Homo sapiens: one gene and its partners. The protein of the gene in region 1 interacts with the protein of each later gene in a pairwise test. Each region holds a gene or a part of one and is shown in the gene's direction. Other genes may lie near its edges. The genes, in order: EHHADH, EBP, IKZF3, FGF14, DRC4, CAPN3 and OPRM1.

Region 1 (3,608 bases):
TGGAGATTTAGATATCAGTGGAATTGCTGGATCATAAAGTAACTCCATGTTTAACATTTTGAGTAACTGCTAAACTGTTTTTTGCAGCAACTGTACCATTTAAAAAATTTGCCAGCAATGTATCAGAGTTCTAATTTCTCCAAATCCTCACCAAAATTTGTTATTGTCTGTCTTTTTCATTATTGCAATCCTAGTGGGTTTGAAGCATTATCTCACTGTGGTTTTGATTTGCATTCCCTTAATGACTATTGATGTTGAACACTTTTTCATGTGATTATTACCCATGTGTTGCTTGTGCTTTGGGTGTCATGTCTTAGAAACCATTGCCTAATTCAAGATCACAAAGATGTATCCATCCATCAGACTTACTCCTAAGATCTGCTTCTAAGAATTTTATAGTTTTAGCTCTTACATTTAGGCCTATGATCCATTTTGAGTTAGTTTTGTATATGGTGTGAGGTAAGGGTCCAACTTCATTCTTTTGCATGTGGATATCCAGTTGTCCCAGCATCATTTGTTGAAAAGACTATACTTTCTCTGTTGAATGTTCTTGGCACTCTTGTTAAAAATCAATTGGCCATAATTGTGTGGGTTTGCTTTTGGCTATCAGTTCTATTCTGCTAATCTATATGTCTATCCTTTTGCAATGACCACTATCTTACACTGTCTTAAATACTATAGGCTTCTTTTTTTTTTTTTTTTTTTTTTTTTTTTGAGACAGGGTCTCACTCTGTCACATAGGCTGGAGTGCAGTAGTGTGATCATAGCTCACTGCAATCCTCAAACTCCTGGGCTCAAGATATCCTCCTGCTTCAGCTTCCCAAATAGCTGTGACTATAGGCATGCACCATCATGCCTGGCTAATTTTTGTTGTTGTTGTTGTTGTTGTTGTTGTTGTTGTTGTTACAGAGTTTCAATCTTGTTGCCCAGGCTGGAGTGCAATGGTGCGATCTTGGCTCACTGCAACCTCTGCCACCTGGGTTCAAGTGATTCTCCTGCCTCAGCCTCCCAAGTAGTGGGGATTACAGGCATGCACCACCACACCCAGCTGATTTTGTATTTTTAGTAGAGACGGGTTTTCTCCATGTTGGTCAGGCTGGTCTTGAAATCCTGACCTCAGGTGATCTGCCCACCTCGGCCTCCCAGAGTGCTGGGATTACAAGTGTGAGCCATTGCACCTGGCCCCCTGGCTAATTTTTAATTTTTTATAGAGTTGGAGTCTCACTGTGTTGCCTGGGCTGGTCTCAAACTCCTGGTTCCAAGTGATCCTCTCACCTTGGCCTCCCAAAGTGCTGGGATTACAGGCACGAGCCACCTCACCCAACCTTGAATAGTTTTGTCATACAATTTGAAATTGGGAAGAGTGAATCCTCCAACTTTGTTCTTTTTCAGTATTGTTTTGGCTCTTCTGGATTTCTTGCATTTCTATGTGAATTTTAGGATCAGCTTATTGATTCTGCAAAAAACCAGCTGGGATTTTTATAGGAATTGTGTTGGTTCTTCACATCAATTTGGGTAGTATTACCACCTTAACAATATTAAGTTGTCTGATACAAAAACATTTAATGTTTTTCCATTTATTTGGTCTTACTTAATTTCTATTAACAATGTTTTGTACTTTTTAGTGTACAAATCCTCCTATTCTTTGTTAAATTTCTTCCTGTGTATTATTCTTTTTGATGCTATTGTAAGTAGAATTGTTTCTTTTAATTTTATATTCAGATTGTTTATTTCTAATATATAGAAATATACTTGATTTTTGTATATCAATTGTGTACCTACAATCTCGTTGGACTCATTTATTAGTTTGTATAGCTTCTATTTGTGTGTGTGAATCTGACTAATTTTTATATCCTCTGAAACACTTAAGAGAGTGCAGAGTCTTAACTAGTACTCAATCCATTTGTGTTTCTTGACTCAATCTCTTTAAATGCCACATTGTCACATAAGCCTTCCATCCAGTGAATAATTTATCAGTTCCCAATACCACTGAATCATTCTTTTTCTCCTTTGATTTTTATCTGCAGGCTTGGGAACAATGGGCCGAGGCATTGTCATTTCTTTTGCAAGGGCCAGGATTCCTGTGATTGCTGTAGACTCGGACAAAAACCAGCTAGCAACTGCAAACAAGATGATAACCTCTGTCTTGGAAAAAGAAGCCTCCAAAATGCAACAGAGCGGCCACCCTTGGTCAGGACCAAAACCCAGGTTAACTTCATCTGTGAAGGAGCTTGGTGGTGTAGATTTAGTCATTGAAGCAGTATTTGAGGAAATGAGCCTGAAGAAGCAGGTCTTTGCTGAACTCTCAGCTGTGTGCAAACCAGAAGCATTTTTGTGCACTAATACTTCAGCCCTGGATGTTGATGAGATTGCTTCTTCCACTGATCGTCCTCACTTGGTCATTGGCACCCACTTCTTTTCGCCAGCTCATGTCATGAAGTTGTTAGAGGTTATTCCCAGCCAATACTCTTCCCCCACTACCATTGCCACTGTTATGAACTTATCAAAAAAGATTAAAAAGATTGGAGTCGTTGTAGGCAACTGTTTTGGATTTGTGGGGAATCGAATGTTGAATCCTTACTACAATCAGGCATATTTCTTGTTAGAAGAAGGCAGCAAACCAGAGGAGGTAGATCAGGTGCTGGAAGAGTTTGGTTTTAAAATGGGACCTTTTAGAGTGTCTGATCTTGCTGGGTTGGATGTGGGCTGGAAATCTAGAAAGGGGCAAGGTCTTACTGGACCTACATTGCTTCCAGGAACTCCTGCCCGAAAAAGGGGTAATAGGAGGTACTGCCCAATTCCTGATGTGCTCTGTGAATTAGGACGATTTGGCCAGAAGACAGGTAAGGGTTGGTATCAATATGACAAGCCATTGGGTAGGATTCACAAACCTGATCCCTGGCTTTCCAAATTCCTATCACGGTATAGAAAAACCCATCACATTGAACCACGTACCATTAGCCAGGATGAGATCCTTGAACGCTGCTTATATTCACTTATCAATGAAGCATTCCGTATCTTGGGAGAAGGGATAGCTGCTAGCCCAGAGCACATTGATGTTGTCTATTTACATGGATATGGATGGCCAAGGCACAAGGGCGGGCCCATGTTCTATGCTTCCACAGTTGGGTTGCCCACAGTTCTAGAGAAATTGCAGAAATATTACAGGCAGAACCCTGATATTCCCCAACTGGAGCCAAGTGACTATCTAAAAAAACTGGCTTCTCAGGGAAACCCTCCCCTGAAAGAATGGCAAAGCTTGGCAGGCTCCCCTAGCAGTAAATTGTGATTCAGTCTTCCAGATTATGCCTCACATGCTAGCATCAGGTAATGCTGACTGAATTTCAGTGAAATTAAATCAAAAATCCAAAGTAAGATTGTTCTGAAATACAAAGCAAAATAAATAATCATTAGAATCTTCTGTGTAACGACTCTAATGGTCAAATCTTTAGGAATGTGCTTCCTATGCCTCTGAATCTGTCCTTATCAGATAAATTCAATGCATGAACTTGTGTGAATATAATACCATAATAGCTAATGAAAGAGGCTCAGGCATAAGTTGAGATTCTCAAATGCTTTTATCATTGGATAAATGTGTCATCAATTAA
Region 2 (2,204 bases), on another chromosome or scaffold:
CCTCCCCAGTAGCTGGGACTATACTATAGGTGCACACCTTTATGCCTGGCTAATATTTTCACTTTTTTGTAGAGACAAGGTCTTGCTATGTTGCTCAGGCTGTTCTTTAACTCCTGGGCTCAAGCAATCCTTCCACCTCAGCCTCCCAAAATTCTGGGATGACAGGTGCGCACCACCGTGCCCAGCCTTATTTAACTTTTTTGTTGCATGTATATTCACGTGGGTCAAAAAACCATTTAAAGAGATTTGCAGTGAAAATCTGCTTTCTATCCACTAAGTTTCCCCAAACGCTGTTAGGCACTGTTGATAGTTGTTTATGTTTCTTTTCAGTTTATTTACACACGTAAGTCTCAATTTGCTCAATTGTAAAAGGAGGATAATAGTAATAACCAACTATATGTAAGATACTTAGAACAGTGTTTGGCAAACAGTGGTTGCCATGTAACTGTTCACTATTATTATCATTATTTGCACTTTTCCCTTTTTACACAAATGGTAATATGCTATATATACTTCTAATCTTTTCTCTTTTTCTTTCTTTCCTTACAAGAAAACCAAAGAAGCCATTTTCTTTTTTGAGACGGGGTCTCGCTCTGTCACCCAGGCTAGAGTGCAGTGGCATGATTATAGCTCACTGCAACCTTGAACTCCTGGGCAATCAAGCAATCCTCCTGCCTCAGCCTCCCTAGTAGCTGGGATTATAGGCATGTGCCACCCCACCAAGTTATTTTTTTTTTAACAACTTTTTTTTTTAAGAGATGGCGTCTTGCTTTGTTGCCCAGGCTGTTCTCCAACTCCTGGCTTCAAGTGATCTGCCCACCTCAGCCTCCCAAAGTGCTAGGATTACAAGCATGAGCCACCGCACCCAGCTGCTTTTTTTAATGAGGTCACTCCTCATGATTTCATAAAGAGCTTTCAAAGCATGGACATTGTACAGTTGCTTGACTTGTGTAGTATTGATGGGCATTTTCCCTCAATCTTCTGCCATTATAAACAAGGCCGGGCAGAGTGGCTCATGCCTGTAATCCCAGCACTTTGTGAGGCGAAGGCGGGCAGATCACCTGAGGTCAGGAGTTTGAGACCAGTCTGGCCAACATAGTGAAACCCCGTCTCTACTAAAAGTCTAAAAATTAGCTGGGCGTGGTGGCAGGTGCCTGTAATCCCAGCTACTCAGGAGGCTGAGGCAGGAGAATCTCTGGGACCTGGGAGGCGGAGGTTGTGGTGAGCTGAGATTGCGCCACTGCACACTCCAGCCTGAGCGATAAGAGCAAGGCTCCGTCTCAAAAAAAAAAAAAAAAAAAAAAAACATTACAGGCATGAGCCATTGTGCCCGGCTGGTCAGATGTTTCTTAAATTTTAGTCATTCCAGTAGATGTGAGTGATATCTCATTATGGTTTTAATTTGCTTTTCCTTAGTGACTAATGGAAGTTTGAACATCTTTCATATACTTATTGGCCATTTAGAAATCCTCTTTGTGAAGAACCTATTCAAGTCTTCTGCCTATTTTATATTGGATGATCTTTTTCTTTCTTTCTTTTTTTTTTTTTTTTTTGAGACAGGGTCTTACCCTGTTGTCCAGGCTGAGCACTGTGGTGCTATCATAGCTCACTGCAGCCTCAACCTCCTGGGCTCAAGACATCCTCCCACTGCAGCCTGGGACTGTAGGCACGTGCCACCACGTCCAGCTAATTTTTGTATGTTTTATAGAGTTGGGGGTCTCACTATATTGTTCAGACTGGTCTTGAACTCCTTTATGCAAGCCATCATCCCACCTCAGCCTCCCAAAGTGTTGGGATTACAGGCATGAGCCATCGTGCCCGGCGGTCTTTTTCTTTCTGATTCTCTGCTCACTCTTGTATTCACTCATCTGTTCACCTACATTCTCTCTCTCTCATTGGCTACTTCACTCACTCCATCATCTACACCTGCTTCCTTTTATACCACACACACTTCTTGAGTACCAATCACAGCCACACTGTTTTGTGTCAGGCTTTACACATATTACCTTGTTTTAGAGAAATAAACCACTAGAATCCAAACAGTTACCCCATTTCACGGATGAGGAAGCAGACGCATGGGAAGGTTATGAAGTCTGTCTTCTTGCAGGGACCCCCAGCTCTCACAAGTGTGTGTTCCTTTCACTGCCTTTATTCTTCATATCTCTCTCTTCTTTTCTTCAGGGAAAGAGTATGCCAAGGGAGAC
Region 3 (4,645 bases), on another chromosome or scaffold:
TCAAACTGTTTGTGCTTTAGGTTCTTCATCTAAGAGATGATAATTCATACCTTAAAAGGTATCATACAAAAATTAGCCAGGCATAGTGGCACGTGCCTGTAGTCCCAGACACTTGGGAGGCTGAGGCAAGAGAATCACTTGAACCCAGGAGACGGAGGTTGCAGTGAGTCGAGATCGTACCATTGCACTCCATCCTGGGTGACAGAGCAAGACTCTGTCTCAAAAAAAAAAAAAAAGTATCAACCCCTAATGGGCTGGTAAAATGAGACAGTATGCAAAGTATCTAGGATGGCACGGTGGATACAGCAGGGGCTCAATAAATAGTACTTATCATTATTGGGATTATTGTATATAAGGCACAGTGCAAGGTACTGTGAAATATAAAGACCAGAAGTAAACATATTAGGGTGGTGGGTCTTCCCCCTCAACCCTGCAGACAGAGTTCTGAATCCACTTGCTCAGTTAAGGGCCCTTTTAGCTCTAGCCTGTGATTCTGTACTTCCAAGTTGGCACTTAGAAGCCAACAACCATATGTCCTCACCACATTGCATCAGTTCAGGTCAGGTGGTTTCTTAGTTTAGAGTTAACAAAGCCAAGATATAAGACATTGACACCTTTAAAAAGAACCACAGGTAGGGAATGGCCCAACCAGGCAGCCTTAGTTTCTAAACTTAGGACTTGCTGTTGCCGTGTGTATTTTTGTTGGAAGAAGACCTCTAATTCAGCCTGAAGCTGGTATCATGAATCATTCAAAGGCGTGGTGTGATTTTGACTAGAAGCTGGACCAGATGCTCCGTGCAGGTTTGGAAGCAGTTACACTTTTGTGGTTTGACTAACCTTTTTTATGAGTGTGTTACTAAAGAAACGTGAGCTGTTGGCTTTTCAATTACTGTAGTTTACCCTTTCTGGGTTTCATACACATTGAGTCATCGTGTCTACAGGTGACTGATAATCATCTGCACTGCTCAAGTTACCGTAACTCAGAGACGAGGGGATCTGATGATTGCAAGTTGCATGCACGTGAACATCTGAGGCTGCCCCATCTCCTTAACAATGAACAATGGTCTGTGTTAACTACAGAATTCAGTCACATATTTCCACTCATCCAGGGGTTTATCTTCCTCTTAATGTTTTGCCTTTTACAATTTTAGCACTCAGCTGTTTTCTGACATATGCTGCAGGTGGTATAGATTGTGAAATTGTAGGCCTTGTTAAGTAAAGCAAACTCTTAGGAGAAAGGATAAAATCAGAGTTTGTGATGTGCCTACCCCACCCAGAAACCTTCTGGAGCCTCTCTGTTGGGTGAAAAGAGAAAAAGTTTCTCAAGGACCCCTGGTATTTAGGGAGATGAATAGAGGTGGCCACAGTGGAAAATAACCAATAACCTTAAAAAGGCCAAGAAACCGAAGTTCATCATTTCTGTGTCACATTCTAGGGAATGAATGTCTGTGACCTTAGCTGGCTCTCATGTTCTCAGTCTTCCAGATGGCCTTGACCAAAGATATATCCAATCTGGAAACTGAAAATAAAAAACATTGATTACTTTGGCCAAGGTCTACTCTGCTGTTGCTTCTCATTGAGTTTCCAAGACAGGGTATTTTCGTTTGCATATTTTTTTTCTCTCTCAGGTATTTCTCTGGAAACTATCAGGTTGGCCTTAAGGTCAGCTGCTTGTGGGGATGCAAAGACAAATTCATCTCATGGGAATAGATCTTTTAGCTGGTTCTTCTGGCTCCAATTTCTCACTGTTCTGGTCTGCCTTACACATTGCTGTTACGTTAACCACAAACCTGTCTTTCTCAAGGGCAGGTAGCCTTGGCTCTTGGTTCGGATTCACACCCTACAGTGGGCCATTCGGAATGCCCACCATTCGGTCCTACCATGCATTATCTTTTTTCAGTGTTTCCCCAAATGTAGGATGCAAATTGCCAGCAAGCACATGGAGCATTTAAAAACCTGGGTCCACACAGCAGGATAATTATTTTCTTTCCAGTTCTCTTTCAGTCTCCTGGATCATACTAAGGAGAAAAATTTAGACTTAATTTGATGCCAGTTGTCTTTAACACTAATCTCACACTTGGTAATCTCTGTTTTTAACAAAGGGGGAAGGGATCTTAGTCTCCAAGTACTCACAGTAGTATCCGATCAAAATTTAATGAAATGCTCTGTTTCATTGTCTTTATTTTTCATAGTTACCTTCTACTTGTGGAAAGTGATTCTGGTTTTCCGTTTATGTTAGTGATATAAAGTTTCCTTAAAAACCACATTTATTTTAGAAAAAGAAAAAAAGAAAGAAAATGTGAACCAAATCAAACAGAGGAAAAAAACCCAAGCATTTACCAAGTGTTTTCCATGTGGCAGGCCCTGTTCTAAGTGCTTTCCAGTGACCCTGTGAGGTACATACAATTATCTTCACTTTACATGAGGACACGGAACATAGGTTAAGTGACTTGCCCAAGGTCACAAAACTGGTGACCAATGGAGCCAGCATCAAACCCAGCCCATCTGACACCAGAGTTTATTCTCTCAACCACCACACTGCCCTGGTGTGTGGATATTGCAGAATGTGAAGGAAGAGTGAAGCCTGAGAAATACTGTATTTCATACTTCTTGATCGCGTTTCAGCCAGACTCGCTTTCTGCACACGTCCCGTGTAGTCCCACCTCTCTGCCTTCATTCCTGCACTCCCCCTCAACTAGGATGTCCTCTCCCGCTTCTCTGAAAATCTAAATTCTTCCAGTTCAAGACCCTTCTCAAAATTTAGATTTTCCAAGAATGCTTTCCCTTCCCCAAGTACTTCTGAAGTTTCTGCATTCCCTTAATGCCTAAATATACAATTTATACCAAATTGTCTCACCGATGCCTGTATGTTACCTTATTATTCTTTTTAAAGAACACGTTACTTCCCTGCCTAAATGCCTCAAATGTGGGCATTTAGAATAAAAGCAAAGACCTCCATAGAGCAAAGCAGTCCTTTTACAACTTTTTTTTTTGAGACAAGGTCTTACTCTGCCACCCAGGCTGGAGTGCAGTGGTGCCATCTCAGCTCACTACAATCTCTGCCTCCCAGGCTCAGGTGATCCTCCCACCTCAGCCTCCTGAGTAGCTGGGACTACAGATGCCTGGCTAATTTTTGTATTTTTTTGTAGAGACAAGGTTCCTCCATGTTGCCCGGGCTGGTCTCGAACTCCTGGGCTCAAGTGATCCTCCCTCCTCAGCCTCCCAAAGTGCTAGGATTACAGGCCTGAGCCACCGCGCCCGGCCAACTTTTAACTTATACTTTTTCTCGAGTTCTATATATATATAGGTCTTATTTCTCATCCACTAGGTTGGAGACACCTCAAGAACAGGAACTGGTTCTTCCAATCCTTTTGTTTTCTCATGGCATTTTTTCTTCTTCTTCTTTATTTTCATTGCTGAACCCTTTACTGTAGGGCAGTGACAAATTTTGGAATCTCAACATGACTAGGAAACATTATAGAAGGATATGGTTTAGCAAATCCCTCCAGGATCCAAGCTGACAGAATGGAGAGGCTCAACAGTGACCTCAGCCTCACCTCCAGCACTCGGCTCCACTTCCTCGCTTTCTCTCCCCTCTCCCCACCACTCACCACTGAGCACATCTGCCCTCACTGCAGTCCCCATCCCTGCCTTCCCTGTGACCAGAGAGCCTCTGTTTTCTAACACACAACACCCACACACTCTGAAGGTGGCTAAACTCTGTTTTCAAAACTTCTCAGCAGTTTGACATGAGAAGTAGGAGAGGGTGACCACAAGTATATTTTTTCAGTTAAGTGTGAGATAGGCCCTAATGATCACATGTGTATCAGAGATACACTTGCCAAGCAAAGGAAGAGAAACACACGTTAGGAAAGGGACAAAGACCATGATCTCTTCTCAAGAAAACTTTTCTCAAACTTTCTACATTTGAAGCTCTTTCACTTCAGTCTCAGTCAGCCAGGACGGGTGAGTTTGGGGAGTAGCCAGTTGGAGTCTGGGGGGCTATTTTCTCTATCTCTGTAGCTATTTAAAAAGCTGCCGAGGTGAGGCACCGAGTGTCCCCACTCTTTGCAGCACTTCTGTCCCCCTGGCTACCTAATATTGCAAGCAGAAAATAACAAGCAAAAGCAAAATAAGAGTTGGGAGCCGACTGTGTCTTAAGAGATCATGAACTATAGCAGAAGTCCCAGGCTCCTGTGGGCTGGTGGCTCCCTTGTCCCTCTAGCCCCATCCTAGTGTCCTGCTTCTTTCCCTCCTTTCTTGAGGGCTCTCCTCTAACATGCACAGTGGGCATACCTTACCATGTGGCCTCAACTGAACCACATCTCTGCCCCTCTCTTCTGCCTGCTGGCTTTATTTTAACCATCCAAACACGTTGCTGCCGACCAGTGTCCCCTGAGACAGCACCATGGGAAACCATTCTGCCAGGCTTGGTCTTCTTGAGCAGCAGGCAACTTAACTCTCCTCCCTTTTTGAGGTCTCTAGAAAATATTTACAAACTCTCTGCCTTGGCAGTGTTCCCTTTGTAACCCTTTCTGTCACTTGTTCCAGGTGAGAAGCGCCACTGCTTTGATGTCAACTATAATTCAAGTTACATGTATGAGAAAGAGAGTGAGCTCATACAGACCCGCATGATGGACCAAGC
Region 4 (4,645 bases), on another chromosome or scaffold:
ACCAGTCTCCACTATCACAAGCAACTGAAGGCAATAGTTCTACAGAAAGAATCACCTATCTGTGAAGTCACGGGCACAGCTCACAGAAAGGTGCTGTGGAATTGACTTCTTTGGAGTCCTATGATGTGAACATTTCATCTGAAAAGATATAGTGTCAGAATCCTTAAGGTATCCACCGAGAATAAATTACTTCCTCTACATCAAGCATCTTCTTCTCTTCCATATTCAACACAGTGAATTCATAATGGAGACAATACATCCCTAAGTTGCTGATGGTGTTGCAAGCACCATTCATGTTTTGGACATTATGGCAGTGACGATCAGAAGAGAATCCTGTGGACCTACGTTTCTGGTGTTTGTAGCAACAGGATGAGCATCAGTGAGCCAGGTTCTGGGCAGAGACACCCGAAGCCCAGGAGGCAGAGCCAGATTCCCCTGACTTCCACTAAGTGACCCACTAAGTCAGCTCTCAGCATGTCACTCATAGCTGATTTTGAGATAGGTTTTTAACTGGTAAGCAATATGCTTAGGTGCCCTGCCCTGTCTCAGTAAAAAGACAAGTGAAATGCCAAAGTCTAATCCTTTTGTTTGAGAAAGTATAGTTTCAACCAATATATTTATTAGTCTCTTGGGGAGAAGCCAGATTTATAGCATTCCATTTTGTTTTACTCACAATAAATGCATGAACATGTACTGTTTTATCAATCTTTTTTTTCGGGCGCATGGCCTGGACATTGACTCAGTGGACTCTCATTTATTAGTGAGAAAACTAATTGGAGGATATATGGAGATGCAGAACTCAGTAGAAAGCCAGAACATTTATTTGGATGGGATCTTATTCTAATCTGAGGTAGCATCATCAAGAAGAAATAAAGATCTACATAAGTTGCTCCAGGAGGGGGCTAAACCTGTCATTTGGCTATTGTGATTTCATCAAATTGATCACTGTAACTGTCATCTTTGTCTTGAAAAGCATCTGCCACTAACAAAGGCTGTTCCCCTTGGAAAACTATTAGCTCTCAGTGAATGAAAGTTATTCAGCACACTGAATAAATTGTCTCCTGCATGAGACAGCATTTGATAATTCACACTTTTATGGGGAATATTGAAAGGAAATTTCTACATGACATTAGGTCACATTCCTAATTACAGTTAGCATAAAGTCAAGCCCTTAATGTTTTAGTTTTTAGCCCCTAAGGAATATTTTTCAGAACAGGTATACAACATTTTTAGAAGAAAACCAAAAATTATTATTTTCTGCAATAATAAAATCTATTAAAGAAAAATGAAAACTTTGTGTATATTTTTTAGTCCAGTGGTATTTTCAAAAAGATCAAGGACAGTAAGGATCTATTTTCCATCTATATTTTATATACATATAGAATAGCACAGTGTTGGACCTATTTAAAACTAGCTAGGTGTCTTTCATGGTCTATAACCAGACAGGTTGAACTTCAAATTTATTTTTAATAGAGGGCTATCAAAAATGCATATGTAGATTGTACCCTTATTAATTTTTTATTTATTTGGCATGGGATTATATTCATTATTATTCATCCCAAAGTAAGAAGTATATAAAAATCATCTGTGAATATTTCTGACATTAATAATAATTGTAAAGTAGTAAGCTTTGTGCTGCTCATCAATTAATGCAGACCATGGCATTGAGCATAATAGTATTTAACAAACTGTATGCTTTCCAAAAATGCTGTGTGGTTTTTCAGTTGGAGCAGCTTTTGATGTTTATCTTCAAGAGTTCCAACGGGACTCAAACCTTTGGAGCCCCATTGAATTATTTTCAGCTACTGTCACTATGACCAGCTAACATGACACCTAACCTCATCTGGTTATACAATAGCTCTAGTGGCTGGCAAGTAAGCCAGCTGATTGTCTAAGTTTTAGTTTGAGGTTTCAGTTTGTTCCTTTGTAAGTAAAATGTATCACCCTGTGATTTCAGTGATCCAAGGAGCAACTGGCAACTGTAGAGTATTATATCACTGTTCCTATGGAAACATGTAAAATGGATTATAAAATATCTGAAATGTGTATTTTATTTGGTTCACTTTATTGTGAATATCTGATGCTACTTTAATGCTCCCTTTCTGATTATACTCTGGTTGAATTGTCTTCTGTTTAAGTTAAATCTTTAGTTTGCTCATGTATTGTTTTCTTATGATATACTTTTGCTTCTATATATTTTCAATAATAGTAGGTTCTTCTCAATTTATTGTATATTTTAAAAATGTATAGACAATTACTGTGCGCAGGAAGGGGTATATCCGGTCCTCCATGCCAAAGCACTCTTTCACCATGCTGGGAAACTTTCTAGAGAATGAGTAGAATGTACAGTGAAGATCAAGTTCCTTCCTCTAACTTTTGTTTCATTTTCTCTCCACAGGAACTTTTTACCCCTGAATGCAAGTTTAAAGAATCTGTTTTTGAAAATTATTATGTAATCTACTCATCCATGTTGTACAGACAACAGGAATCTGGTAGAGCCTGGTTTTTGGGATTAAATAAGGAAGGGCAAGCTATGAAAGGGAACAGAGTAAAGAAAACCAAACCAGCAGCTCATTTTCTACCCAAGCCATTGGAAGGTGAGTATTATGCATGCATTATTATTACATAGACTTATTACATATTTTATTTTTCAAATTGATAGGTCTACCATGGCTCTAAGAAACCTTCACAAAGTGCTGGAAATGTCATTTATTTTGATCTAGGTGATGGTTGCACAGGTGCCTACTTAAGTTATTGATTTAGAATTTGTGCCCCTTATACACTTTACTATATTTGTGTATGTATGTGTACCAGGAAAAATTTCTTCTCTGCCACCTCCAAAGGCTCAAATCCTCACTGCTACAACCACTCTAACCCTTAGATAATTTAAATTAATTAAGTTAAAACAATTTTAAATCTGTAATGATACAAATCTGCGATGATAAGTATATTAGAAAAAGATAATAAGTATATTAGAAAAAATAAGTTTTGAGCGTGGAATCAAAAGTATTTTCCATTTTGATATTATCTAGGTGAAAGTAATTACCTACTTGTGGATTATTATAATTACAGAAAAATAAGAGATAATAGCTTGACTCTTAAAGAACTTGCTGATATTACACATCTGCTTTCAAATTGTGTAATTCTTCACTGTATACATTTGTAGCATTACTTCTTTTACTAAAATAATTTATCCACATTCATTTGTGTGCAGGAAGGGGTATATCCAGTCATCCATGCCGGATGAATGGAAATTTCACATTTACTCCAATCAGATACCCAAAGAGCAGGCTACAAAGTTTTTTTAATTAATCAACAACATCTGCACCTCTCTCATTAATGATTCTGCCAAAAGTGTCATTTACTTTTATCTATGTAACATTTGAGAATTACAAAAATATTTGATTTTAGGATATTCACATGTGTTTCTATTCAAGTTCTTTTGTTTACTCTTTTGCAGAAGATCAGATCTACAATAACTCAGTAAATATTTTAAGCTAGCTTGGACAGCTCAATTTTCTTTTTGTGTTTTATTCCTACAGGAAAGGCTTAGCCATCACGAGAAAATGCATATTGTTTTCATAATGCATATTCTCTATATTGAAATAAAATAATTTAAAAATTTGAACAGTCAATTCTTCATCATCTGTGAGTGTATAATTTTCAATTTGCCTAAATTCAGAAAATCGCTCTTGTTGGCTAATACTACTTCTGTAATTTCAATGATGTTGACTTAGTGTCACTCTTAATTATATTTTTCTGTAGAACAATTTATTGAAACCCAAACAGTTAGCTACCAGGGCCTATACAGGAAAAGACAGATTATTCCAGAGTCTGAAATATGAGTGAATTATTCTCAGTATATGGTGGATCATAAGGATGATTAGAGTAGAAAGAAGTTAGAGGATTTCCCTGTTCCTCCCAAAAAAAACACATCCATGATACACTTTCATTGTTTTAAATAAATTTTGATAACATTGGACTCACCTATATTTAAATGCAAATAAAAAATTAAAAAATAAGCCCACAGAAGCTCTAATAAGACCATTGTTTATTTGCCACCGTGCTTTATCTCTTTTCACTCATTTTATGTTTTGTAAATAGTTAAGAATTGACTAGATTTTTAGAACCTTACCCTTTAGCTGCATAAATGTAACAAAACCCAAAAGGGCTGTTATGTCATTTAACCGAGGTAAAATTTGGGAACCAGTTATTTTGCATATCTCATAGAAAATATCTGAGACAACAATGATGTGGTATAGAATGATACTTGGTATTTCACTCATGTATTTGTTATGTGTATATGAGTGTTTTGTGTGTATATATACATATATATATATGAGAAAGAGAGAAATAATACTTTTTATGTTTTCAAAAAATTAGCAGAAGTACTCTAAAAACAGTTAAGGGGGTAGGTACTATAACGACAGAGATTATCACATTGTTTACTTGATAGAGGAAAATTAATTTCAAACTTTCAAAACCCATACCGAATATAAATAATGTTATTGGAAATGTTTGACAAATTAAGTACCTGGTTAATTATTGGTACTCTAGGGCATTCATATCTTTGTTTTATATATATATATATATATATATATATATATATATTTTATTATTATACTTTAAGTTCTAGGGTACATGT
Region 5 (4,036 bases), on another chromosome or scaffold:
ACTTTTCGTATAGTAGAGACGGGGTTTCGCCACGTTGGCCAGGCTGGTCTCAAACTCCTGACCTCAAGTGATCTGCCCTCCTTGGCCTCCCACACTGCTGGGATCACAGGTGTGAGCGGCAGTGCCTGGCCTGGACTGTTGCTGGAGAGGCAGGTTGTGCAAGCTCCCAGTTCTCTGCTTCTTCCTTGTTTTCTCTCCACCCTTGGAGACCTTTTTCTGCTGACAACCCTGTGTGGATGGATGCATCCATCAAACCAGGCTGCTATTCGCTGGATCTCTCAGAACGCCCACTGGAGTCCCCAGGCCGCTCCCGTTGCCTCGGCCAAAAGATGAGTCTCAAACTCCCATCACCTCTCTCTCCTCAGGATGTTCTTGAGTCGAAGAACAGCACCATCAAGGACCTGCAGTATGAGCTGGCCCAGGTCTGTAAGGTACGGCTGTGCCCTGCCCTCCCTCAGGGGCACCCCCTCGGTGCCCAGACTGTTCTAAATGCAGACGGTCTCTGAGGACCCCACCTGTGCCCACTTCGTACCTCGTTTGACAAGGCAGCTGTCACTGTCCCCACGTGAGGGTGCAGTCATAGCCGAGAGCATCTGGATTCTGTGTGGTCTGGGGCAGTGCACTGCTGTCTAGGCCATGTCTCTGCTGGGATGGGTGTAGGGGGGGACCTGGACGCTTCCCTGGTCAGCCCCTTCCCCTGGGCAGGGAGTCAGAAGGTGCTGTGCCCACCGGGGAAGGAAACAGACGTCATTCAACAGGGGAAGGGAGGGCGTGAAGAACCTGAGTGGGAAACACCCAGCCAGGGCCCAGAGCCCTCCCAGACCACAGCTCTGCCCTGAGTGTCCCTGCCCTCTGCCTCCGTCTCGTCATTTGTGGAATAGGAATAGTGACAGCCTCTCCCTGTCGTGCTACCTGAGCCAACGCAGTGAAGGTGCTTGGAGCTGTGTCCCACACGGGAAATGACTGATAAGCCTTTGGCTTTATCCTTCTGCACCGTGATGCTCACGCTGCCCCTCCATGGAGCTGCACTCAGCTCTGGTGGTCCTGAGCGTGGGGACCCTCAGCTCCCTGACACTGCCCTGTCTCCACAGGCCCATAACGACCTGCTGCGCACGTATGAGGCAAAGCTGCTGGCCTTCGGGATCCCTCTGGACAACGTGGGCTTCAAGCCCTTGGAAACAGCTGTGATCGGACAGACACTGGGCCAGGGCCCCGCGGGACTGGTGGGCACCCCGACGTAGCTGCCCCCCTGGGGGGCCACAGCCCAGAGAACCAGCCTAGGAACACTCGGGATGACACCCCTTATCACACCAAGGACAGCAAGTTTTTTAGATTTTATCATCAGCAAATGAAAGCTTTTCACATGTTCTTGCCATCCTCTTTCCTGGCTCTGTGGAGGAGAACCACCTGCAGGACCCTCACCCATGGTGTCCCTGTCGCTCCCTTCCCTGGGTGCCGCACGTCCAGCCTGTGTCCAGGCCTACTCCCTGGTCTCACCTCCGACCACAGTCGGCGGCACCTTCTCAGAGTGCCCCGCACTCACCTGGGGGTTGGGGCAGTGCCGCGCTGTGCTGCCTGTCTTCGCGCCACTGTTGTCCCACCGAATGGACAGCTTTGCAGGTGCTGGCACTAACTTCATTGACACCTGAGTCACAGCTGCCCAGTGGGATTCTCCAGGGGGCCGGGACTTCCCTAGGAAGTGGTGAGCCAATGCTCCCTGATGAGCACAAAGCCCGCTCTGTTGAGGGCTGGGTGGGTGCAGCCAGCGTGCGGGAACGGGCAGGCAGCCTCCCGCTGCCAGTCTTCGCTCTAACTCCCTCGGTAGGTGATGTAGGACCAGGGGCACGTGGAACTTCTGGGCCTTGCTGGTGATGGTTAAAACAACCTGAGATGGAGAGGCCAGGAGAGAGTATAAGGGGATAGCAGCAAACCACCTATCTGGCCCCAACACACCTGAGAGAATTCAGCAGCCCAGACTGAGGGTCTGGGATGGGGTGAACCTTCCGCACCAGAGGGACACTCCACAGAAGCCACAGCCCAGTAAGTCAGGCGCTTCTGCGGCGGCTCCAGTGTGGGGTGAGGCAGTGAGGTTAGGCCCAGAGAGCTGGAGTTGGCTCAGATGAAAACCTCTGTCAACAAAGAGGGGATGAATCACCCTTGGCCCAGCCTCCCCACAAAGCCTGACCCTGGGCAGGTGAGTGACGGGTGTGTCCTCGTAGAGTCTATTGCTGCCTGGACACCTTTCTTTTGGGAGCTCAAAGCAAGTGAGCTCACCTACCTGCCACCGCCCAGGACCAGTCTGCCCACTGCCTAAATGATGCCCGGCCAGCAGGACCTGGCCTGCAGATCCCAGTGAGTCATGAGCCTCAGCCCCCTCCAGCCCACTGGGGCTCTCACCTCCACATGTGGGTAGAAGCTTTCCTGCCCCCTCTTCCTCCAGTAGCCCTCAGTGTCGAAGGTGAGCTTGTAGGTGCCTGCCTTCATCTGGTCCAGGACAGTGACCATCTGGGTCTGTGTAGCTGGGGAGAGGATGAGGCTGCAGAGATGGGGACCAGAAGCCCCCCACCCCAGCTTTCCTGGGTCTGCATCCCAGTGGGCCTCAGACACTGCCCTGCCACCTGTCAGACTTGGGTGAGCAGACACAGTGAGGCTGTTAGGTCCTGCAGTTCCAGAGCAGTCTAGGGACACCACTGCCCTGTCTTTAGGAAATCACAACACAGAGAAGCAAAAAGGGAAAAAGTCTCCCACAATTTATCCCATGAGCAAGAACCACTTTATAGCTGGCATATATTTTTCCAGATTTTCTCTATGCATAAGTATATTTGTTTAAAAACTTATAAAGTGGATTATACTATTTGTATTGTTTTATAACCTGTGGTTTTCACTTAAAATATTGTGTATGGCTGGCTGGGCGTGGTGGCTCACACCTGTAATCCCAGCACTTTGGGAGGCTGAGACAGGCGGATCATGAGGTCAGGGTATCGAGACCATCCTGGTTAACACGGTGAAACCCCATCTCTACCACAAAAAAATTAGCTGGGCGTGGTCACGGGCACCTGTAGTCCCAACTCGGGAGGCTGAGGCGGGAGAATGGCATGAACCCAGGAGGCGGAGGCTGTAGTGAGCCGAGATCGTGCCACTGCACTCCAGCCTGGGCGACAGAGCGAGACTCCATCTCAAAAAAAAAAAAAAAAAAAAAAAAAAAGTGTGTGGCTTTCTGGGTCAATAACTACCAAACCTTCACCCACAGAGTGGGCCTGTCCAACTCCACGGAGCGTCTGTGTTGTGTGCCCTGGTCCCTTATCAGGGTTCTGAATAACCGTGGCTTTGCCCATAGTCACTTCTGGAAAACCTCCCATCATTCTTGCCAGCTGGTCTTTAAAGTGTGCGCTTCTGCTGTGATTAGAAAGAGCAGGCCCGAACAAGGTGGCTCACACCAGTAATCCCAGCACTTTGGGAGGCCAAGGTGGGTGGATCACGAGGTCAGGAGTTCAAGATCAGTCTGGCCAAGATGGTGAAACCCTGTCTCTACTAAAAATACAAAAATTAGCCGGGGGTGGTGGCAGGTGCTTGTAATCCCAGCTACTCGAGAGGCTGAGGCCAAGAATTGCTTGAACTGGGTAGGTGGAGGCTGCAGTGAGCCAAGATCGTGCCACTGCACTCCATCCTGGGCAACAGAGAGACTCCATCTCAAAAAAGAAAAAGAGCATAGCACGCTGGGTGTGGTGGCTCACGCCTGTAATCCCAGCACTTTGGGAGGTCGAGGTGGGTGGATCACCTGAGGTCGGGAGTTTGAGACCAGCCTGACCAACGTAGAGAAACCCCGTCTGTACTACAAATACAAAATTAGCTGGCGTGGTGGTGCATGCCTGTAATCCCAGCTACTAGGGAGGCTGAGGCAGGAGAATCGCTTGAACCCAGGAGGCGGAGGTTGCGGTGAGCTGATGCCACGCCATTGTACTCTAGCCTGGGCAAGAAGAGTGAAACTCTGTCTCAACAACAACAACAACAACAAACATAGCGTGTGTGCATGAGG
Region 6 (5,092 bases), on another chromosome or scaffold:
TAGGCTGGGACCCAAACTTATGACAGTGGGGGAAAGAAACCCCACCTTTGCTGTCTATGCCACTGGTGACTTTGAGGGTGGAAGTCAGTCTTTTTGTTGCAGGCAGATAGGCCAGCTTCTGATTGGAGATGCTGCATACCACATGAGCCTGGGCAGATTATACCTATTCCTGTGCTGTCCACATAGCAGATATTCAGTTAATGCCCATTGAGTGGATGCTGATTTGCGTCAGCGAGTAAATGTAGCATTCGACCTGATCTAACTCCAAAGTAATATTAAATTCAGGTCTTCTCTAACAACACCATTTATTGAGTGCTTAAGAAAATCCTGGCACTGTGTAAAATGTATTACATAAATTATTTAATTGTTACCAAAACCTAATAACAGAATGACTGTAATTGTACCTATTTTATAGGTGAGAAATCTGAGACAGAAAGGAAGAAATAACTCACCTAAAGTTACACAGGCACAGCCAATAAGGGGCCAACCTAGACTTTGAACCGAGGTGGTCAGTCACCAGAGACCACTGTCCTCTATTCTGCCTCTCCAAGACTAGTAAAAAGCCCTGGGCATTTTCTTGGAGGGACAGATGGCTAGGCTGATGGTTCCTGCAAGCCCAGACATAGAGTCCTTCAAAGCCGCAATCCCAGGGATCAGGAGGCTGATAGTACTCCCTATTTTACCTGTCACTTCCCACCTTCTTCCATAGCCTCTAATCTTGGATTATTGAGACTGGTCGCATGGGAACAGGCATGACTGCAGCCTAGGACATGCCTCCACTCTGCCATACTTGAAATGTGCTCATCTCCTTACAGCCCAGGGAGCAGCTATTGTGGGTAGAAGACAAGGTGGAGGCCAGGCAGGCACTTCCCTTCCCCAGAGCCACTTATGCTCTCATCTAAGAGCCCTGAAACCAGGTGTGACATCCCAGGAGTTGACAGACAGTCTGGTTCAGTATCTAATTCCAACTTCTGTCTCAGATGCCTAATGTGGCATGGCTGAATGAGTCAACATATAACCTGTACAGTAAGTCCTCACTTAACATCATTGATAGGTGCTTGTAAACTGTGACTTTAACGAAAACATACCGTGTGCTGTAGGGACTTAACTCTTGTTTATATCAGTTAGCCTGGTTTCACTATACAGTACATCATTTTGCTTAAAGTCACAGCTTACGAGAACCTATCGATGATGTTAAGTGAGGATTTTCTCTGCTCAGGTGCACTTTTTTTTTTTTTTAAGACGGAGTCTCTTTCTGTCACCTGGGCTGGAGTGCAGTGGCGTGATCTGGGTTCACTACAACCTCTGCCTCCTGGGTTCAAGCAATTCTTCTGTCTCAGCCTCCCAAGTAGCTGGGATTACAGGCACCCGCCGCCACACCCGGCTTATTTTTGTATTTTTAGTAGAGACAGGGTTTCACTATTGTTGGCCATGCTGGTCTCGAACTCCTGACCTCATGTGATCCACCCGCCTCGGCCTCCCAAAGTGCAGAGATTAGAGACGTGAGCCACATGGCCCAGCAGGACCACTTTTTAGCAGATTCAGTCCCAGTGTTCATTTTGTGGATGGGGAGAGACAAGAGGTGGCAAGGTCAAGTGTGCAGGTAGAGACAGGGATTTTCTCAAATGAGGACTCTGCTGAGTAGCATTTTCCATGCAGACATTTCCAATGAGCGCTGACCCAAGAACATTCTAAAAAAGATACCAAATCTAACATTGAATAATGTTCTGATATCCTAAAATTTTAGGACTAAAAATCATGTTCTCTAAAATTCACAGAATATTTTTGTAGAATTCAGTACCTCCCGTTCACCCTAACTAGCTTTTTTGCAATATTGTTTTCCATTCATTTGATGGCCAGTAGTTGGGTGGTCTGTATAACTGCCTACTCAATAACATGTCAGCAGTTCTCAGCTTCTTTCCAGTGTTCACCTTACTCAGATACTCCCTTTTCATTTTCTGGCAACACCAGCACTTCATGGCAACAGAAATGTCCCTAGCCAGGTTCTCTCTCTACCATGCAGTCTCTCTTGCTCTCATACTCACAGTGTTTCTTCACATCTATTTTTAGTTTTCCTGGCTCAAGCATCTTCAGGCCACTGAAACACAACCCTCACTCTCTTTCTCTCTCCCTCTGGCATGCATGCTGCTGGTAGGAGACCCCCAAGTCAACATTGCTTCAGAAATCCTTTAGCACTCATTTCTCAGGAGAACTTATGGCTTCAGAATCACAGCTCGGTTTTTAAGATGGACATAACCTGTACGACCTTCTGATGGGCTTTCAACTTTGAACTGGATGTGGACACTTTTCTCTCAGATGACAGAATTACTCCAACTTCCCCTTTGCAGTTGCTTCCTTTCCTTGAAGGTAGCTGTATCTTATTTTCTTTAAAAAGCTTTTTCTTCCAAAGCCACTTGCCATGCCGACCGTCATTAGCGCATCTGTGGCTCCAAGGACAGCGGCTGAGCCCCGGTCCCCAGGGCCAGTTCCTCACCCGGCCCAGAGCAAGGCCACTGAGGCTGGGGGTGGAAACCCAAGTGGCATCTATTCAGCCATCATCAGCCGCAATTTTCCTATTATCGGAGTGAAAGAGAAGACATTCGAGCAACTTCACAAGAAATGTCTAGAAAAGAAAGTTCTTTATGTGGACCCTGAGTTCCCACCGGATGAGACCTCTCTCTTTTATAGCCAGAAGTTCCCCATCCAGTTCGTCTGGAAGAGACCTCCGGTGAGTAGCTTCCTGCTTGCTGGCTGGGTTTTCCCCCCACGGAGGAGTCCTCTCACTCAGCACCTCCGGCAGCTCAGCTGTGCACATGGGCACTGGGGGAAGGATCCTGGCAGCAGCTCTGCTGGGCTCTGTCTTTAAGTGTGAAGCAGGGAGGAGAGGAACAGGTCTCAGATATTTCACCAAATCTCAGCAAAATCCAGAGGGAGAGCGCAGGAGGTGGGGCTGATTCTTATGCTCTGGCTCTTTCTCTCTGAAAAAAAAAAAAAAATCTTGCTTTTTATAAAAGTGGGTGGAACTCAGTTTAATTCATCCTGTAAAAATAAATATTCCTTTCTCAGAACAAATTCCAGACAGCCCAGATGTACCTGTTCGTTTTAAATATTATTCATCTTTGTAAGATTATTTCAGTTTCTCTGGCTAAAATCATGATGTTATTCTTCTTTAATTTACCAATGGCCATATCTTTCTGAAACACAGAAACCCTAGAAAGAGAAGAGTCATAGGCAAGGAATATTTTTTCATGCATAAAATGTTGGGGTTAAAGAGAGAGAGACCTAGCAATCGCTTTTGTCCACCTACCTCACCTCATAAGTGAGGAGTCAAGGCACACTAGAGTGAAATATATCTAGTGGGCACATGACAGAGCCCGGATTAAAACTTTCTGTTTTAGGAAACTCTCCCAGCCTCTGGGTTTCATTTACAGTGATCGCCAGGAGGGAAATCACATTCCCCTGGCTCACCTCTCTGATCATCCCTCCAGTGTGACTCTTGTTCTTAATTCGAGAAATATTTATTGAGCATCTACTAGTGCCAGCACTGGGCAAGCAACTGGGGGGACAGCAGTGAGTAAGAAAGACCAAAATTCCAGCTGTCTTGGAACCTAGGGTCCTGAAGGGAAGATGGGCATTGAACAAGAGTGACATTGTCAGGAGACGATGTTCTGGGTGCCACAGGATCATGTGGCAAGGAGAGCTAACCTGGTCCAGGGAGACAAACCCTCTCTGAGGAAATGATGACAAGCTGAGACCCAATACTATTGATTAGCCATGGTTTTCTTTAACCTAAGGTGGGCCAGGCATGGTGGCTCATGCCTATAAACCCAGCATTTTGGAAGGCCCAGGCTGGAGGATTGCTTGAGCCCAAGAGTTAGAGACCAGCCTGGGCAACAGGGTGAAAACCTATCTCTTTTGTACTAAAAATTCAAAAAATTATCCAGGCATGGTGGCACATGCCTGTGGTCCTAGCTACTCAGAGGCTGAGGTGGGAAGATCACTTGAACTCGGGGAGTTGAGGCAGCAGTGAGCCGAGATCATGCCACTGCACTCCAGGCTGGGTGACAGGAGTGAGACCCAGTCTCAAACAACAACAATAACAACAACAAACCTGAGGTGGAGTACTAGACAACCCTGTATATTCCATAGGGGCTCTTCTTGGTTCTATGGTAAGGCCCATAACTGTCCTGAAGGCCTTCAGTTTAGAAGATAACACTACTCTGCTATCAGAGTAGTTGGACATGTCACAACCCCCTGCTGAAATATCTTCAGTGACATCCCTCTCTCGGCCCCCACTGCCTTCAGGACAAGTCCAAACTCCTTAGCCAAGCCATAGGCCCTTCTCAGCTGGTCCCTGCCTACCTGTCCAGGCCCATGTCCATCCTCTTTCCCCAGATCCTGACACACCAGCAGTGCTTGGACATTTAGCTGCTCTGTAGTTCCAAGTCTTCTCACACCGGAGGCCTTTGCTCATGCTGTCTGTCTGCCTGACATGCCTTTTTTGTTCCTATCTGAACCTCTGCTCAGGTGTCACTTCCTTCAATCTTTCTCATGACTGATTTCCTCTCACTGAGAGCAGAAATCCTTCCTGTTCATCTTTGAGGCCCCCTCACCAAGCTCAGGCCAGTCCCATAGTGGGTACTCAGCTGATGCTGGTGAGTGAAAACCCACGCCCAAGGGCCTTGACCAGTGAGACAGGATAGGCCTGCGTTCCCAGGCAGGGAGTTCCTAAAAGCCCTTTCTTGGGCCAGACATGGAGGCTCATGCCTGTAATCCTAGCACTTTGGGAGGCAGAGGTGGGAGCATCAATTGAGCTCAGGAGTTGGAGACCAGCCTGGGCAACATAGTGAGACCCTATCTCTATAAAAAAAGTTTAAAAAAATAAAAGCTCTTTCTCAGAATGGGGAAAATTAAAACCTACAAATACTGTTTTCAGTGAAATCATTGGTGGACTTGAGTCTTCAAGCGAGACTTACAAATTAATAAAAATTCTTTAAGGGCCTGTTATGCTCTAGGTACTAGATTGGGCAGTGTCCATGTTTGAAATGAGGGGTGCAGAAGACTTGTCTGTTCTAAATTGTGCCCCCACCAC
Region 7 (4,645 bases), on another chromosome or scaffold:
CTGGGCAACATGGTGAAATGCTGTGTCTACTAAAAATAAAAAAAATTAGCCAGACTGGGTGGCGCATGCTTGTAATCCCAACTACTGGGGAGGCTGAGGCACAAGAATTTCTTGTACCCAGAGGCAAAGGCTGCAGCGAGCCGAGATCGCACCACTGCACTCCAGCCTGTGCAACACAGTGGGACTCCGACTCAAACAAAAAAAATAAATTAAAAAAAAAAGTACTAGGGGTAAATACCAAGACTAAATGGTGCATGTCATTTTAAAATACAAGAATTCCAAGTCTTTAGTCCTCACTAAGTTTAATGTTTATCTGACTGAAATAATTATCTGTGACAGCAGTCTTCAAACTTGTTTTTAGATGTAGACACTTATTTCAAGAACTTGGGACCCAATATATAAAACAGATCACAGAACAACTGTCCAGATGTAACCACATGTTGAGACCAAGAGCACTGCTCACCTTGCACCCCCATGCCACCCACCAGTGCTGTCCCCAAGGGACCACCATAGAATTTCTAGGGCTCCACCAGGCAAAATTTGAAAGCAATGGCTTTCACGTTGTTTCATATCCTTCTCGTGCCCACCTCATGTCCTTCACCTCGCCTTCTACCTCAGCCGTTGATATGGCAGTCAGTTTCCAGACATAACTGAGTAACACTTCACCTTGGCTGCATCTAAATCACTTACTTTCTGCCCTAGGGCTTCTCTACTGGAGTAATTGCCCTCCATAGGAATCAGCCTGGCACTCACAAAGGCACTATTTGGAAGTTCAGGAAAGTTCCCTTGACCAGGAAATGGAAGCCTGTGGAAAAATGCTGCCCTTGCTCCCCTCTCTCCTGAGGTGTACAATTCTGAGGTGCCAACTACAAGGCACATCAGAAGGCCCCGCCCACATTGTGACCGTCTCAAAAACATGCCTCGTTTTCCTCTTCCCTGGTTTACTCTTCTAGTTTCCCACTCCTTGCCAAGCAACCACTTTTCAAAATGGTTCACCTTCACACAAGGTCGTATCTCACACTCTGCTGAATATCCTTCCTGTTATTTTATAATTGGTGACTATACGTTAGCACAGTAAAATCTGTTTAATAAATAGAGCTCTTACAGACCTATCAATAAAGGTTTTCTCTTAACTATCAAAAACTCGTAAGAAAAATTCTGATAGGCAGCACCAGTTAGAACTACCAAGAGAGTTCAGAAGCTAAGCTTTTCCTTCCATTTTTGTTCCTGCCTTGGGATTTAGGAAAGGCTTTTTTGGGTAGGTTTGGCTGAATGGAGAGAGAGTGGGCACCAGTCATGTCCAGTGTTCAGTTTACTTCTTCTTGAGCTCAGGATAATAGGAGCAGAATTGTGTGTGCCATGTAAAGGAAATAAAGCCTCCTGTGCCTTCTGGCAAATTATCTGAGGGTATAAGAAAACAAACAAACAAAAAATCCTGCCACTCCCTTTTCCATTAATTTCATGTTATATAGTAACGTTAAGAGTATCTTGTGATTAATTGAGCTCAAGAAAATTTCAGTCTTCAAAAGTGAGCTGAAGCATCAAATGCAGGAAACGTCATATACAACAAGCATCATATACTGAGCTTACCAAGCAACTCCTTTCTTTACCCATCCTTTCTTGCCTCAGGTAACTTTTTTTCTTTCCCCATCAATTTCTCAGATACAAATTTAGAAAGGAAGAACAGCAAGGAAGAGAAACCTTGCCCTGGCTCAGGGCCCCAAGTGTCAGTTGTGGCTCGACTTCAAGGCACTCTGCGCCTCACTCTCCTTATCTGTAAAAAGGTGCGAATTGGACTAAAAAAATCTTAAACGCTTTCTAGTACTAAAATGTCCTATGGCAACTTCAATGACTATTAAGAGCATGTTTTTCCCAGCAATACAATCTGGAGGAAAAGAGGAATCATCCACAAAACTAAACAATCGTGGTTGCCATTCCATCACAGCCCTTTGGATTCTATATAAGCTCAAATAGGTTCTGTCAAAGGGAGAAAGAGTGAGTGTGCTCTGAACTGCCAGGTGTGGTGTTTATGATTAGGACAATAAGGGAAACAGAAAGTTACAGTCAAGCCTTTATTCATATGCTTCGAGAGTACAGGCAAGTGGTTAAGTGGGAAAAGGTGCAACCCCATCATGTTTCATTCCCCCCACCCCCACCCCACAGAAGCCACCAGGTGAGCATCACATGTTTGAGCAGAAATGCAGGAAGGAGAGGGAAAAGTCATCTTCTTACTGCACTGGGAGGCCCAAGCAAAAGGTCCTGCTGTTTTGTGTACCTGAGGGCCTGGGTGCAAGATGGGGAAAGACAAGGAATGAAAAACAGTGAGTCAGAGTATGTGCTGCCTCCTTAAGGGTTAGGAACGCATAACCTAAAAGCGTGACTGGCAAAGGTGGAGCGTGGGCAAAATTCTCTCTCTCTCTCTCTCTCTCTCTCTCTGTCTCTCATTCTCTGTTTAATTTTTAGGAGATGGTTTTAATATTTGCCTTTAGGTATTAGTCCTATCCTGGATGTTGTATTCCAAATCTGATGCAAAGAGGTTCCACCAAATCTAATCAAGTGAACTTTCGTAAACCAATGGATAGGGCTTTCCCATAAGATGAAGTGTGTGATGGGTTTAAATGAGAGAGAGATCATTCTGTTCTGGATATGTGTCTGTCCAGGCAAAAATGTTGTTAAGTACAATTTTTGTTTGTTTGTTTTTTGTTTGTTTTAAATAATATGTTAGCTTATGCACTGTATGTAAGTAGGTGTCTTCGTGTGTTCAGGCTGCTATAACAAAGTACCATAGCCTGGGTGGCTTACAAACTACAGAAATTTACTCTTACAGTGCTGGAGGCTTGAGGAGTTCATGATGAAAGCACCAGCAGATTCTGCATTTGCTGAGGACCTTCTTGCAGAGACAACTAACTTCTCCCCATTTCTCCACAAGGCAAAGAGGCAAGGAAGCTCTCTAGGGCCTCTTTCATAAGGGCATTAATAGTGTTCATAATGGCTCTGCTCTCATGACCTAATCACCTCCCAAAGGCCCCACCTCCAAATACCATCACACTGGGGAATAGGTTTTCAACATGTGAATTTGAGGGGAACACATTCAGTTTACAGTAGGTGTCCTAAGTGATTCAAATATTAACCACTCATATTCACTGAAAACCATTAGTGTGATTTAAATTAACGTTTACGTAAATTAGGCCAACCTGATTCCTTCACTATCTTCCAATATGCTTCATGTTTATCTCTTCTATACTGTTTCCTTTATTTTTCTTTCTCTCTGTTTTCCTGTAACGTATCTCTCATTCTTTTCCTATCAAAATGTTTCTTGTTCTTCAAGTATCAACTTAAATCCATCCTTTCTTACAGCCTCTCCAAAGTACTCCTACAACCAATTTCCCTGCAATATAACCCAAAATACATGCTACCATTGTTAAAAAAAAATTATGCATTTTCTCATGGCCTTATAAAATGTCACTTGATAAAACTTAAAGACTTGAACTATATCTATCTCTTTGTGTTTAGGTGAGAAATCCAACATTCAAAGTTGACCAACAGAACTGAATATCTTCAAAATACTGTACAATTCTAAGCTATTAGCAATTCAGATGTACCTCAAATTATTCAAGTATAAAATCTAATTTAAATAATTTTCTCAATTCACTTTGTTCATGCATATTTAGCTTTTATCACTTGAGTCATGAAAAGTGATCTGTACCATAGATACATATTAGCAAATCATAAATTCAAATACAAACACATACATGTCTATATATGCATATATTCCTGAGTTTACAAACTTTAAAAAGGGAATATATGGTTACTCTTATAATAAAAACTCAGAAAGTAAAATTTGAAGAAGTAAAAACATAAAAAGTTAATATAGTCAATTCCCATTATTCATGATAGTTATGGTCCATAAAGTCATTATGACTACAGAATTCGTGAGTACTGAAGCTTTGCTTCTAGGGGATATATAGGGCAGGTTCCTGTGAGCCTCTGATTATAAAATTTTCATCAGCTAATGCATTCGTAACCTTGTTTTATGTGTGTTTCTGTTTAAAGACGCTTTATTTAATATATAGCTGATTCACTAACGTTGAACTCATGGTTAACAGCACTATAAATCATGCCTGAACAAAGCTTCTGTAACACAAGTACTTTCCTCATAAGCCACATCACAGTCTTCTTGGCTTAGGGACACTAAGCAGAACTTCCACACTATGTTTGAGACCATTTTAAACAGTGAAGTCACCACCACCACCAACAACAACAACAAAAAAACACAGAAATGTGAAAAATGTGGCAATAAATAGATTGTGAAAAGGACACGTGTTTATAGTACAAGCTGAAAGAAGACAGCAGAGCATTGCCTTGTTTGACCTTACCTGGGAACCTGCACAGAGAGCAACTCAAATTTTTTGCTGCTCTATACATGTCCACACAGGTCCTCAAATGACTGCAAAAGCCAAGTATTATTTTGCGGGTAAATATTAATAGATTTTAGTGAAGAGGCCAATTTTCAAATACAGAATCCTCAAATAATGAGAATCAAATATATATAAAATGTTCCTCAAGGAAATATTTTTGAAACACTAGTAAAGAAGAAAATCAGGAAGCTATGTTCCAAATTAAATATGGTAGCAAATTCATGACA

What was found.
Region 2: the proteins of EHHADH (region 1) and EBP interact in binary tests that used the Homo sapiens proteins (3 or more experiments, as listed by UniProt).
Region 3: the proteins of EHHADH (region 1) and IKZF3 interact in binary tests that used the Homo sapiens proteins (3 or more experiments, as listed by UniProt).
Region 4: the proteins of EHHADH (region 1) and FGF14 interact in binary tests that used the Homo sapiens proteins (3 or more experiments, as listed by UniProt).
Region 5: the proteins of EHHADH (region 1) and DRC4 interact in binary tests that used the Homo sapiens proteins (3 or more experiments, as listed by UniProt).
Region 6: the proteins of EHHADH (region 1) and CAPN3 interact in binary tests that used the Homo sapiens proteins (3 or more experiments, as listed by UniProt).
Region 7: the proteins of EHHADH (region 1) and OPRM1 interact in binary tests that used the Homo sapiens proteins (3 or more experiments, as listed by UniProt).

Annotation. Positions count from the first base shown.
Region 1 is NC_000003.12:185,191,907-185,195,514, reverse strand, and holds part of EHHADH (peroxisomal bifunctional enzyme), read left to right. Parts: intron 1-2,027; coding exon 2,028-3,289; 3' UTR 3,290-3,608. UniProt on the Homo sapiens protein: Peroxisomal trifunctional enzyme possessing 2-enoyl-CoA hydratase, 3-hydroxyacyl-CoA dehydrogenase, and delta 3, delta 2-enoyl-CoA isomerase activities. Catalyzes two of the four reactions of the long chain fatty acids peroxisomal beta-oxidation pathway.
Region 2 is NC_000023.11:48,524,808-48,527,011, forward strand, and holds part of EBP (3-beta-hydroxysteroid-Delta(8),Delta(7)-isomerase), read left to right. Parts: intron 1-2,181; coding exon 2,182-2,204. UniProt on the Homo sapiens protein: Isomerase that catalyzes the conversion of Delta(8)-sterols to their corresponding Delta(7)-isomers a catalytic step in the postlanosterol biosynthesis of cholesterol.
Region 3 is NC_000017.11:39,766,400-39,771,044, reverse strand, and holds part of IKZF3 (zinc finger protein Aiolos), read left to right. Parts: intron 1-4,551; coding exon 4,552-4,645. UniProt on the Homo sapiens protein: Transcription factor that plays an important role in the regulation of lymphocyte differentiation. Plays an essential role in regulation of B-cell differentiation, proliferation and maturation to an effector state.
Region 4 is NC_000013.11:101,724,564-101,729,208, reverse strand, and holds part of FGF14 (fibroblast growth factor 14), read left to right. Parts: intron 1-2,398; coding exon 2,399-2,597; intron 2,598-4,645. UniProt on the Homo sapiens protein: Probably involved in nervous system development and function.
Region 5 is NC_000016.10:90,042,105-90,046,140, forward strand, and holds the end of DRC4 (dynein regulatory complex subunit 4), read left to right. Parts: intron 1-365; coding exon 366-431; intron 432-797; exon of another isoform or gene 798-1,091; coding exon 1,092-1,241; 3' UTR 1,242-2,856; downstream 2,857-4,036. UniProt on the Homo sapiens protein: Component of the nexin-dynein regulatory complex (N-DRC), a key regulator of ciliary/flagellar motility which maintains the alignment and integrity of the distal axoneme and regulates microtubule sliding in motile axonemes.
Region 6 is NC_000015.10:42,357,387-42,362,478, forward strand, and holds the start of CAPN3 (calpain-3), read left to right. Parts: upstream 1-2,114; 5' UTR 2,115-2,419; coding exon 2,420-2,728; intron 2,729-5,092. UniProt on the Homo sapiens protein: Calcium-regulated non-lysosomal thiol-protease. Proteolytically cleaves CTBP1 at 'His-409'. Mediates, with UTP25, the proteasome-independent degradation of p53/TP53.
Region 7 is NC_000006.12:154,045,032-154,049,676, forward strand, and holds part of OPRM1 (mu-type opioid receptor), read left to right. Parts: intron 1-4,645. UniProt on the Homo sapiens protein: Receptor for endogenous opioids such as beta-endorphin and endomorphin. Receptor for natural and synthetic opioids including morphine, heroin, DAMGO, fentanyl, etorphine, buprenorphin and methadone.